Linked DNA regions of Homo sapiens. The protein of the gene in region 2 purifies or fractionates together with the protein of the main gene of each other region. This does not show direct contact. Each region holds a gene or a part of one and is shown on either strand. Other genes may lie near its edges.

Region 1 (3,500 bases), on a different chromosome or scaffold from region 2:
TTATGACAATTTTGTGCCTACTCATTTACTGGATTCTGGGCTATATTTGCAATTTTCATTAACAAAGACAGTCACAGCACTAACAGTCCCTGAGGTTGAATGGTTGCAATATTCAGATTTTTTTTTTTCTTTAAAGACAGAGTCCTGCTCTGTCATCCAGGCTAGAGTGCAGTTGCACAATCTTGGCTTAGGGCAACCTCCGCCTCCTGGGTTCGAGCGATTCTCCTGCCTCAGCCTTCTGAGTAGCTGGGACTATAGGCGTGTACCACTATGCCTGGCTAATTTTTATATTTTTAGTAGAGACAGGGTTTCACCATGTTGGCCAGGCTGATCTTGAACTCCAGACCTCAGGTGGTCCACCCACGTTGGCCTCCCAAAGTGCTGGGATTACAGGTGTGAGCCACCGCGCCCGGCCCAGTATTCAAATTAAAGTCATTTGTGATGTAGGTTGGTATGTCACTGGTCTAGGTTCAGTAGAAAATACATTACATGGACACAGCCAGTTTCCTAAGCATTCATACCTTAAGACCTACATGGATTGGTCTAGAATTTTAGGAAAATAGAATAAATTTCAATAAGCCAAAAAAGTGAATGAATTTTTTAAAAATGTGAAATGTCAGTGTGGAACATATGTAGTGTTTAAGACATTTTCTTTGGTTTTGGGGGCAGTGATTTTCTGATGTAAATGGAGGTTTTCTCTTAGCACTTCCAAACTATTGCATAAATCTTTTACTCAGTTATGTGATTTTAGAGCTCCGTTTTCAATCACCATTAACCAGAAAAACCTAAAGACTATTGTGTGCCTTTGGTAACACCCATAGTTTTCCTATCTAGATACAGAATTAGAGGTGCAGAAGAGCTGTGGGTTGCAGGTGGGAGAACCATGTTGGAGGAATTTGGTTTGGGGACTTGCTGAGACAAGTTGAAAATGGGGGGTTAGGATTTGGAGAAATATCCAAGCTAGAAATACAGATTTGGGAGTAATCAGTAGAAGTCCGTGACGTGATAGAAGTGGAACTACAGGTTACAAAGGTTGAGAGAGTGGAAGGTTTTCAATAAATTTAGCAGGGAAAGAAAGGAGAAGGGGAGATGTTGTGAGAATTTGAAAGGGAAATAAAGGTTTCTTTTTTTCTTTTTTTAACTTCATTTAGTTTTTCTTTTCCAAGAATAGAGATGTTAGCTCCTTAGAAGCAGGCCACAGGAAAGGGAGAAATTGAAAATATAAAAGAAGGTGGGATGAGAGATAGACATGATGAACTCAGAAGTCCAAATGGGATCATTAGCCTTAGAAATGACATAGAGTGTTTTTTACTTCCAAGGCAATAAAGAGGGCAGGAAAGATGGGTAATGAACCCAACACAATTGGGGTAGCTAGGAGGAAAGTAGGGAACTTAAGTGGGTAGAAGAAGGGGTTGTATATTCTCTAACTTGGAACCTTGGTGGCCTGTTGGACTCCAGAATAGCAGCAGAAGTCAGGTTGGCTATATGGGGATTCTGGCAGAGAGTCAGTGGTGAATACAAGTACTGATGGGGCACTGTACCCTAAGAATGAATATATAGCATAGACTTCAAATGACCTTCATCAGCTTGGCAGAACTTCATTCAACAGTGCTCATTGGCTGGATTCTTATCTTCAGAAGTGGCAGTCAGGCCCACCTGAGAGAAAAGGGGGTGCAGAGGAATGTGTACATGGTACACATGCTTTTCTTAATTTTAACGTTTAAATGGCTGTTTACCAAAATACCATTGAAAGTCCTTAGTCTGTATATTCTTGCTGAAACACCTTGCAGAGAAATGTTCTTGGCTTTATTTTTTTTTTTAATTAAAATTTGGGCAGCAAGCCTAGTTATTGAGTTAAACACCGTGTTTCACTGGAATTCTTTTCAACGTCTTTCAAGATTTTGGAGAAAGTCTCTTTTGAGAGTAATATTATGGTGATAGCTAGAGTCGAAGTGTTAGGTAACTTTCTCTTAGTGGAATATAATGTAAGGGCTTGTAAATTTAAATAGTTTAGTGCTGAGCACACAATGGACATTCATTACAAGTTTGAAACTGACAGAACAGTCTGAAAGAATCACACTTAAATTTTTATTTAAAAACTTATTATAGAAAACTGAGGGCATATAAAAAACTATAGACCACTCATGATCCTTTTCCCCAAAGGTAACAACTATCAACATTTTGATGTTTCTTTTAATGTGTCTATGTACAGATATAATTTTTAAACATCAGGATCAGTTTGTGACCTGCATATTTGCTCCTATATTGTTGGGTGTTTTCCTTTTGAATAATCTGAAAATATGATTTTTAGTGATTATAAAAATACCATTCAGATATATCATTTAATCCTCATATTTTAGGGGCATTTATTTTCCCTTTTGGACTATTACAAATAGTATTGTTTGGACATATTTGTACACACATCTTTTTTCCAAATTTCTGTTTGGGGAAGGGAACACAATCCTAGAAGGGGAATTACTGATTCCAAATGAATGAACCTTTTTAAACGTCTAGATGTACATAGTACTGCCAAATTGCTTTTAAGAAAGATTATGTCAACTTAGACTGTCACTGGCAATGGATGAAAGTACTTCCTACTTTGTTTTTATCTATATTGCCTTAAAATTATGATTTTAAAAATTTGCAAATTAGAAGATATAAAAATTTTGCCAGGTGCATTGGTTCACACCTGTAATCCCAGCGCTTTGGAAGACCAAGGTGGGAGGATTGCTTGAGCCCAGGCATTTGAAACCAGCCCGGACAACGTGATGAAACCCTTTCTCTTCCAAAAAAAAAAAAAAAAAAGAAATGTGAAAATTAGCCAGGCGTGGTGGTATGTGCCTGTAGTCCCAGCTGCTGGGAAGGCTGAGGTGAGAGGATGAATCAAGCCCAGGAGGTCAAGCCTGCAGTGAGCCATGGTCGCACCACTGCACTCCAGCCTTGGTTGACAGAGCAAGACCCTGACTCAAAAAAAAAAAAGGAAGATATAAAAAATGTTACAATCTTTACTAGTAAAAAATACTGTTATTCTATTTTATGAATGATTTGTTCAATTATGAGCCCGGTTTACTTGCTGCTGATAATTAAAAACAAAAGACAAAGACTTCTAAGAACATTCAGAACCTTGTGATGATTACAAATCTGAGAAACACATTGACTTTGCCCAAAGGTAAGAGCACAAAATGAAGCAAATTCCTGACTCCTTTGGCAGTGATCTAATGGTTAGATTACTAAATATGGCATCTTTTTTTTTTTTTTAAGGAATGTCACTATTACTCATGGAGAGAAACACATTTCTACAGAATTTTTACAAACTAAAAAGAAATTCTAATTAAAAACAATTATCTAACAGTTTTTCCTAGCACCGAACATAGTACTTGGTACATAGAAGATACTGACTAAATGTTTGTTGAATGAGTGAATGAATAAAGGGAAAAAAATCACATGTAATTTGAAGACACAAGAGAAAAATAGTTTGCTCAGGACATAATGTAGATAAG
Region 2 (2,185 bases):
ATACATGCATACATGTGTGAATATGTATTATACATACATATGTATATATGTGTATACATATACACGTGCATACATGCTAAATACATATACATATATATACACCTATGTAGTACAGATATGTATATACACATACATGTATACATGTGTATATGTGTATGTATGCATATGTGTGTGTATATTATATGTATATTCATGTATGTATGTGTATATGTATGCATGTATTCTGCCTCCACAAGCTGACAATGTGAGTTAGTTTTAAGATTGGGATATTCAGGAATGCATGTTTGGAACTGAATATGGTTGAGTGAAATATGTGTGCCTTATGAACACTATTTGTTTATAAATTGATAAAATAAAATACTAGAGAGCAGACTCAGGAATAAAACTATGGCTTTAGTATGAACGGTGGCTAAACCTTGCCTTGGGGGACTCAAAGCTCTTTGGAAACCAATCTCTTACCTTCCCCACAACTCCTCATTCACAATGAAAATAACAGCATACCAAAACACAAATACCAAACTTTTATTTTAAAACTGTACAAAAGCAAACAAAAAATTCCACTGAGTCACTGTGATAGTTAATCTTATGTATCCACTTAACTGGGTCACAAGATGCCCAGCTATTTGGTCAAACATTATTCTGAGTGTTCCTGTGAGGGTGTTTCTCAATGACATTAACATTCAAATCAGTAGACTGAGTAATGCAGACTGTCCTCCCAAATGTGGGCGGGCCTTGCTGAATCAGTTGAAGGCCTGAATAGAACAAAAGAGCTAACTCTGCCCTAAGAGAATTCTTCCTGCCTAATAGCCTTTGGACAGGACCATCAGCTTTTTCCTTGCCTTCGGACTTGAATTAAACATCATCTCTTCCTTGGCGTCAAGCCTGCTGCCATCAGACTGGAACTAAACCATCAGCTCTCATGGGACTCCATCTTGCTGACTTATCCTGCAGATCTTGGGATTTAACCGCCTCCATAATCACGTGAGCCAATTCCTTATAATAACCACCGCCCCCCTGCCCCAATATATATTGATTCTGTTTCTCTGGAAAACCTTGACTAATACAGGAACTAACGGAGAACTTCTGACAAACAGAAAGATACAGTTTCTGTTGGATAGAACTGTGTATTCATCTGCAAACTGATAACCAATATCTCCATGGTTAGGCCAGATCGCATATATGATGTGACTTGAAAGCGACGAGGCTTCTGCAATACACACCCAAAAATCAAGGTCATTATTTCATCCTCACACCTAGTCTACCAACTTCCTATTTGAAATCAATACTCTCCAACCTAAGAGGCTGTTTGCTACACAAATACTCAAGTATTGCAGTACAATGGTCTTGTGGGGAAAAAAAAGCTTCTACGTTGGTGGTTAAAACTGCCACTTTTTCTAGCTGGACCTCTCTGAATCTCAGAAAGGGTTGGCACAACAGATTGATTCATAAGACAGTCACAACAGACTCAACAGACTGAGCCTCTGAAGGTCTGGGCCAAGGTCAGAGGGCAACATACAGCTGAGTTCTCTGCAACTGTGTTTCCCAGCTCCCTGATGTGCTCCTGGGGCTTTTCAGGATTATAGCAACTGTATTTAAAGTCGCTGTACCTAGTTACCATCAACAGGCAGATTAGCTTTTGAAAGCATGTACATTAGCTCTGGATATCACCAAACTATGTTGTAAACAGCATCAAGAAAATAGAAAAGGATGGTATGTTTTACTCATCAGCCTTTCCCAATTCATTCCTGAAGAAAGAGGGAAAGAGTGAGTGGTCTAAAACATGCTTGCTTTTAGAGAGCTGACTTTGGGGGGCAGAGGCCAGAACTGAGAGAGAGAAAGGCAGTCCTCAATGGGATAAGTAAGAAGTCAGGGACTGGGGGCCATAACTTCTTGACTAAAGCTTGAGGGCAGGATGAGGCAGAGAAAGTGTCTTCTAAATAACCCCTGGAGTAGCGAACTCTTTTCCCTGAACCTGTGCTGTATCTTGGTAACACATATTCAACATCTCCACCTGCACCTAAACTGATTGTTTGGTTTCCAGGAATCCTCCCTCCAGGTCACTGGGAGCTTCAATTCCTTAGAAGAAAGGTAAGCTTCAGAACTGAGGCCTGGGAGAAAAGTGGTACAAATAGAAACCACAAAAGGGTCTGGATTTGGGTTAAGGTGAAGAGACGTTCCATAATCA

What was found.
Region 1: the proteins of ERMAP (region 2) and FAM199X purify together in Homo sapiens (affinity purification with mass spectrometry; 2 studies listed by BioGRID and IntAct, with this or other methods). This does not show direct contact.

Annotation. Positions count from the first base shown.
Region 1 is NC_000023.11:104,169,453-104,172,952, forward strand, and holds part of FAM199X (protein FAM199X), read left to right. Parts: intron 1-3,500.
Region 2 is NC_000001.11:42,843,307-42,845,491, reverse strand, and holds the end of ERMAP (erythroid membrane-associated protein precursor), read right to left. Parts: 3' UTR 501-2,185; downstream 1-500. UniProt on the Homo sapiens protein: Possible role as a cell-adhesion or receptor molecule of erythroid cells.